2 linked regions of the Homo sapiens genome follow. The protein of the gene in region 1 purifies or fractionates together with the protein of each later gene. This does not show direct contact. Each region holds a gene or a part of one and is shown in the gene's direction. Other genes may lie near its edges. The genes, in order: SLITRK6 and PHLDB3.

Region 1 (4,370 bases):
CTTGCCCCTTCTTTTTTTATTGATTAAAATTCTAATTTCTAACTATCTATCTAAATAATTACCTTGATTTAATTAATTTGGCTAGCAGCTAGCAGGAAATTGTGCCAAACACTAATTATTTATATTTAACTTCACTTATACTCTTCATTCTCTCATTTTTTTATTTTTATTGTATTTTCGAACCCCCTCCTCTGTATCATCATCTCTTTTCCATGTTAAAGCACAAAATGTCATTAAAATAAACGAGAAACTTAATTACTGGGAAATATAAAGTAAAGTGAGAATACTGAAAATTCCCACAGAGCCCTTATGTGTTTAGAGCCAATATACCACCCTGAGACGATAAAACTATATCAATCTGAGTGTATGTCATTAAATAATAATGTGATATTCTTCTATTTTGATGATTTAAACTATATCAACTCTCCTTTTTAAAAACAGCACTTTCTGAAATGACACCTACTATTACATAGAAGGCCTCTAGAATCTGTATTTATTCTAAACAGAATAAACAAATAAAAGACAGCATCTAGTATATGCACTTTGGATGTGAAAAAGTTCAGGAAGGTAGGTAAGAAGAATAACTTTTTAAACCACAGGCTTTTTGAGAAATAAGGAATCTGACAAGAGTAATAATGGTGATGATTCAGAAACTTTTAAGAGCTGAAGAAACACGCAACTTTTAAGATATAACCTATTAAGAATAAATTCTCTCTGAGCTAGCACTATACAAATCAGGTTATTGTAATATCTACATATTTCACTTGTTTCATTTTATCTGTAAAGATATAATGTTATATTTTTGAAAGTGATAAACAGAACTTTATCAATGATAATTATTTTGTGTTTAAAGATTTTTAAATATATTTTAAAATAATTATGCTTTTCTTCTAAATAAATATATTAAAATAACTGAAAGATCTTCATTTCTAAGTTTAATTATTGAATATTAGCTCTAGGGAAAGAAATAATGAAGTAAAAACTTAGAGTCCCTAACATAAGGCTTTAAAAAAGTTAAATGGTGAATACAAAAATACAAATATTGCAGGGAAGCAGTTCGTGTTAACATTTTACAATCTAGTTAGTGCACAATTTCAACTATAAATACCAGATTTAAAAAAAAAAAGAAAAAAAAGAGGCAACTACTCTATAGGCAGCATTCTTGTGTTTCCTGCACACATGTGTGCAAACACTACAGAACAGTGTTAGTTGAGAATTTAACATAACGTATTATTTAGCTTGCTATAACACAATGTACTATTAAGCATTTAAAATGACGTGTTATTATTTCCATCAAAATTCACTTGCACTATATTTGGTATTGAAAGGAGTGGAAAGACCATTTGCAGAAAGAGGAGGAGTTGAGCAGTCCCAAGGTGGAGCTGTCTCTTGTGTTATATGACACTGGCAGATTAAAACGCTCTGATGGGGAAGGGCTTAAAGGCTGAGTCAAAAGCCAAGAAGTCTCTTTATTTACGCCTACCTCCCAGCCCTTGGCAATCTGACTAATAACAAACTGAGCTAACAAGAAATACTAGAAAAGGAGGAAGGAGAACATTGCTGTAGCTTGGATCTACAACCTAAGAAAGCAAGAGTGATCAATCTCAGCTCTGTTAAACATCTTGTTTACTTACTGCATTCAGCAGCTTGCAAATGGTTAACTATATGCAAAAAAGTCAGCATAGCTGTGAAGTATGCCGTGAATTTTAATTGAGGGAAAAAGGGACAATTGCTTCAGGATGCTCTAGTATGCACTCTGCTTGAAATATTTTCAATGAAATGCTCAGTATTCTATCTTTGACCAGAGGTTTTAACTTTATGAAGCTATGGGACTTGACAAAAAGTGATATTTGAGAAGAAAGTACGCAGTGGTTGGTGTTTTCTTTTTTTTAATAAAGGAATTGAATTACTTTGAACACCTCTTCCAGCTGTGCATTACAGATAACGTCAGGAAGAGTCTCTGCTTTACAGGTAAGATGAATGTTTCCAGGCTTTTCTTATACTTATTTTTGCATTATAGTAAAGTGATTGAATTTGTATGTTCGCTTCCTTTAAATAAACAACTTTGCATTAAAGGATACTCAATTTCATTCTTGCTTACTGGCACAACTAACACTGGAGCAGATGCCTGTATTCTCTGAGAAGCAGACATTTAGTCTAACAGCTGGCTACAGAGAAGAACAAATATAATATTCCACTATTTCTTTTGCAACATGCAGTTTGTTGTTAGAAACTAAATATGTGTGCTTTCTGAAGGAAGGATCACTTCCAAATGCGAATGTTGAATTGCAAATATAAGCAGAATATTGAATAATTCTTTGCATTTTGTATGCTACTTATTTTCTGATTTGAAAATACGTATTCTCAGAAAACATGTCAATGAGTATCTTTTGACCTCTTTACCACTGTATCAGATATTGTCAGTAGAGAACCACTTTTCACATCTGTGTGTGTTTCTGAAAAGATTAGAAACTGTTTCCTAGCACGTTTTGAAGAGCATAAAATTCATACAGGATTTACAAAATAACAAGAGTTTATCACTGAAAAATTATTTACTATTTTCTCTGATGCTATACCTGGTGAAATAAATCTTATTCTTTCTTGGTAATTTATGAATAAGTACTTTTAGTGATTGTGGAAGCTAATCCACAAGTTGAAGACTCCAACTACAAGCTGCTTGTTTATAAACTCAGCACACAAAGCTGTTTAAAATCAAATTATTTACCTACAGAAAAATAAAATCTTCTAACTTTCCCTTTACACAGAGGCAGTATGTTGTTTTGTTTCTTCAGTTGCCTTTTGCCTTTCAGGAACTTTGTACTATATGTGTTTTCAATAAAACACTATGTTTTCAGGGAATGCAAGTTTACTTTCAGGATTGTTGATTGGGTTCTGGTATGTTTTACCTGATTGTGAATTTTAATTTGATTCAGTTACTGTTCATATTTCAAACAACAAAAATGAAAACTGATTACTATTTTGAAAAGTTGAATAGTCATAAGATGTGTTTATATTTCAATTTAGTTTATATAAGTTTAAAGTATAATATTTAAAGGAAGGAAATAAAATTAGATCTCATTAGAGCTATAAATGTTTACCTTGCATAACTGTCATTTAAAGGGCAAAACCTTTTTAAGAATTGCTGTTTCAGATGCATTTGTTATGTGTTTCAGGATTAGAATACGTGATGTTATTCTGAACCATCCTTTTTTTCTTTTACTGAATTTGAAATATCATCAAAAAGTTTAATATGGTACAGTTTGTTTCAGATTTCATTGTTTGCGACTTTAAGCCTTTTAATAAAGGCTTAAAGCTGCTTAATTATGTGATGACATTCCGTGCCCTAAAGACTGTTTCAAGACCTCATTAGGAAGTCATTTGCTAGAAGTTTATATGAAGCATTGTTTATTCTTTTACAACAGCCTGAAATGTGTGTTAAAGATTAATCTTGCTTCTTTAGTTTTTATCATTTCCACCTCATCTATAACGTAATTAAGAAGCAGTAAGCAATATACTGCTTCTAGAAATTCAATATTAAATATAATGATTTAAGTGAAATTTGAATGGTCACACTTAAGTGTATGTATCTGATACTATTACGCTTATACAAACTACCCTTGATTGAATAGTTAAAAGAGTTCTTATAGTACTGTACTTTATAACATGATCAAAGACGCATTTTCCTCAAGGTTTTCAAAATAAACAATAAAATTAGTATATATATATATATATAGCCAAAACCGAAGCAGGTTAAAACACAGACACAGTTATTAGATGTTATTGTGTGACACCCAGTTCAACAATATAAAGACAATGCATGCTACATGCGTACATGCATACACACATACACATATGCACACATACATTCTTTTATCATTTTTTACATTCCCTACAGTTCTCTATGCTTACGGCTAATAACTATGTAATTGTCTTTTACTATAATCCTCCAGCCTTAAATGTATGACCATAAGGTTAAAAAATATTTTCAAATATATAACTTTGCATCACAGTGAAGTATCAGTGCTCTAAGGCAGCATCTCTCTCATCTGTTAAAATGCAGGTTATTCATCAGATGTGAGCACAAATTTTATGATATAATATTTTAAATCCCCCTTGACCTAAATTTTATATTTTGAACACAATGCAAGTTAAAAGTCAGCCAGACTTGCCTGTCTGAGTATTAGGAAAAAAAAAAAAGAAACAAATGATGTAAATGCAGCAAGGTACCCATATTTTCATGGTAATCCGTCATTTGCTTTTTGGAGAAAAACCTATTATTTTGAAAATATCAGCTTCATCTCCTCCCCAGTTCTGCCCACTAAAGTCCCTTGCTATTGCGTTTTATTTTACAGAATCGGATTTCATCACAT
Region 2 (3,824 bases), on another chromosome or scaffold:
CTGGCAATTCCCCTGGCTCAACCTAATATATAAAATTTCATTTTTTCTTGGGAAGAACCCTCACAAGCAGGTTCCGTTATTATTTGGGTGAAGGGTTAGCAGATGTTCTTCTGTATGGGAAATTAACTTTCTGGCTGCTTCCCCTGGAAACCTGATGAAGGTAGGTGTCAGCTGTGTTGCCAGGCAACGTGACTTAGGATAGCAATTACCCTTATTAGTAAATTGCATATATGAAAATATTTGGTGGGACGCCATGTCCAGTCCTATGGAGTTGTCACCTGACTTGTTGGCCCCTGTGCACAGAAGGCCTCTAAGCCCAGGTGCACCCTGTACCCACCAATGTGGATCATTGCTTAGCTCCTGGATCTCACCTGGGGGCCATGCATGCTTCTACATGCATTGCAGGAGGTCACTCATTTAATCCTTGCAACAACCCAGGAAGGGCAGTGAGATGTTACCCACTTTACAGAGAGGACACCTCGCTTGAGAAGAGAAATGACTTGCCTACGTCATGCACCCAGGAAGTGGCAGAGCTGGGATTTGAACCCGAACCGGCCTGTTTCTATGGCCTGCTGATGGCTTATGCAGTTCCTACAACATAAGTGCCCTGCAGACAAAGCTGGGGTCTGACCTGCCCACTTGGTTCCTCAGTGCCAAGTATCTAATATCTCCCAGCTAGGAAGTGCTGGGAATGTGGCTGGAAGGAAGGAAAAAGTCAAGTAAAGCACGGGGATTTGAGCCTCAGTTTCTTCTCTGTGAAGTGGAGCTAACATTTCTCAACTCCCAGAGTTTTTATTTTTTTTAGTTTTCAATTTTTGAGACAGTCTCGCTCTGTCGCCCAGGCTGGAGTGGAGTGTAATGGTGCGATCTTGGCTCACTGCAGCCTCTACCTCCCAGACTCAAGCGATTCTCCTGCCTCAGCCCCCCAAGTAGCTGGGATTACAGACATGCGCCAGGCTAATTTTTGTATTCTTTGTAGACATGGGGTCTCACTATATTGCCCCAGTCTGGTCTCAAATTCCTGAGCTAAAGTGATCTGCCTTCCCTGGACCTCCCAAAGTGCTAGGATTACAGGTGTGAGCCTTCATGCCTGGCCCATTATTTTCTTACCCATGATTCCCCTTAACCCCTAAATATTCCTAAATTTACTACCTAATGTCAAGCCCATTCTCTTACACAACCACAGTTCAATGATCGATTTCAGGAAACTACCACTGAGACAACACTATTAGAATCCACAGACCTTATTTGTATTTTGTCAGTTGTTCCACCAATGTTTTTCCCTCCCTCCCTCCCTTCCTCCTTCCCTTCCTTCCTTCCTTCCTTCCTTTTTCTCTCTCTTGCTCTTTCTTTTTTTTTTTCCTTTTTGGCAGAGTCTTGCTCTGCCGCTCAGGCTGGAGTGCAGTGGTGTGATCTCGGCTCACTGCAACCACTGCCTCCCTGGTTCAAGTGATTCTCCTGCCTCAGACTCCCGAGTAGCTGGAATTACAGGTGCCCACCACCACGCCCAGCTTATTTTTGTATTTTTAGTAGAGACGGGGTTTCACCATGTTGGCCAGGCTGGTCTCGAACTCCTGACCTCAGGTGATCTGCCTGCCTCGGCCTTCCAGAGTGCTGGGATTACAGGCATGAGCCACTGTTCCTGGCCCCACCAGTGTTTTTTCTAGCAAAAAATTCACAAAAAAAAACAAACTTTTTTTTTCTTGGCTCAGGAACACAGGTTGCATTTAGTTGTCATGTTTATTTGCTTTTAAAAAGTTAACATTCTCCTCGTTCAAAATTCACATGGTGTGGGAGGATATTCAGAGAAGACTCTGCGGCTCTTGTTCCCCCTCCTACGCTGTTCACTTCCTGAGGGCCACCAGGGTTACCAATTTCCCATGTGTTCCCCAGAGATATTCTGTGTTGACACAGCTAGTCATGTATGTACTTTCTCCCTCTTTTATGCATACCTAGTTTATTCTATGCTGTTCTGTACTCGCTTAAAAAAAAAAAAAAAAAAACTTTAAGAGATAGATCTCACTGTCGCCCAGGCTGGAGTGCAGTGGCATGATCATGGCTCACTGCAGGGTCAACCTCCTGGGCTCAAGTGATCCTCCCACCTCAGCCTCCTGAGTAGCTGGGACTACAGGTGCACGCTACCACACCTGGCCTTGGTTTTCTCTTGGATATTATGTTCTGTTTTTTTTCTTTTCTTTTTTGGATATTATGTTCTACCTGGATGTAGGATGCATCTTCCTCTTGTTCTACACTGCAGAATTGTCCTTAGAGTCACTTGGGTGCGGTGGCTCACGCCTGTAATCCCAGCACTTTGGGAGGCCGAGGCAGGTGGATCACTTGAAGTCAGGAGTTCGAGACCAGCCTGGCCAATATGGTGAAACCCCATCTCTACTAAAAATACAAAAATTAGCCTGGCGTGGTGGCACATGCCTGTAATCCCAGCTACTCGTGAGGCTGAGGCAGAAGAATCGCTTGAACCCAGGAGGCGGAGGTTGCAATGAGCCGAGATTGTGCTACTGCACTCCAGCCTGGGCAACAGAGTGAGACTCCAACTCAAAAAAAAAAAAAATGGTCTATGGAGTGCATAAGCCATGGTTCATTTACCTTGTCCCCTTCTGATGGGCATTTAGGTGGTCTCCAGGCTTTTGCTAGCACAGATGGCACTGCAGGGAATCACCTTGAACTCAGATCACTTTGCATGTGTATGAGTGTATCCATCCGCTGAATTTCTAGAATTGGAATTGGGGCTCCATGGTTTATGCATTTGTCATTCAGATTTTTTTTAAAAAAGCCAAGTTGCCCTCCATAAAGCTTGTTCCAGTAGAACACCCCCAGTATCATGTGAGGGCATCTGGGTTTCCTACATAGCCACCAGCACGGTGGGTTTTTTGTTTTTTTGTTTTACTTATTTTTTTTGAGACAGGCTGTCACTCTGTCGCCCAGACTGGAGCGCAGTGGCACAATCTCAGCTCCCTGCAACCTTGACCTCCGGGGTTCAAGCGATCCTTCCACGTCAGCCTCCACAGTAGCTGGGACTGCAGGCACGTGCCACTATGCCCAGCTAATTTTTCTATTTTTTTGTAGAGACAGAGTTTCACCATGTTGCCCAGGCTCATCTCCAACTCCTGGGCTCAAGCAATTTGCCTGCCTCAGCCTCAAAGTGCTGGCATTATAGGTGTGAGCCACTGCGCCTGGCTGCAGTGGGACTTTTTTTTTTTTGCGACAGAGTCTCGCTCTGTCGTCCAGCCTGGATTTCAGTGGCGAGATCTCGGCTCACTGGAACCTTTGCCTCCCAGGTTCAAGCAATTCTCCTGCCTCAGCCTCCTGAAAAGCTGGGATTACAGGCATGTGCCACCACACCTGGCTAATTTTTGTATTTTTAGTAGAGACGGGGTTTCACCATGTTGGCCTGGCTGGTCTCAAACGCCTGACCTCAAGTTATTCACCCGCCTCGGCCTCCCAAAGTGCTGGGATTACAGGTGTGAGCCACCACACCTGGCCCACAGTGGGATTTTTAGAAAGAGTTTTATTGAGGCATAATTCACGTCCCTATACAATTCATTCATTTAAAATGTACAGTTCTGTGTCTTTTAGTATATTCAACGTTGCGCAAACATTACCACAATCAATTTTAGAACATTTTCATTATCCCCCAAAAGAAACCCTGCATCCCTTAGCCTCTCGGTTCCCCGATCTACCCCAGTCCGGGCAACCACAATTCTACTTCCCATTTCTATGTTAATTTGCCTGTTCCGGACATTTCTTTTTTTCTTTTCTGTGTTTTTTTTTTTTTTTTTTGAGACAGAGTCTTGCTCTGTCGCCCA

The links.
Region 2: the proteins of SLITRK6 (region 1) and PHLDB3 purify together in Homo sapiens (affinity purification with mass spectrometry; one large-scale study listed by BioGRID and IntAct). This does not show direct contact.

Annotation. Positions count from the first base shown.
Region 1 is NC_000013.11:85,796,515-85,800,884, reverse strand, and holds the start of SLITRK6 (SLIT and NTRK-like protein 6 precursor), read left to right. Parts: upstream 1-1,465; 5' UTR 1,466-1,971; intron 1,972-4,352; 5' UTR 4,353-4,370. UniProt on the Homo sapiens protein: Regulator of neurite outgrowth required for normal hearing and vision.
Region 2 is NC_000019.10:43,487,549-43,491,372, reverse strand, and holds part of PHLDB3 (pleckstrin homology-like domain family B member 3), read left to right. Parts: intron 1-3,824.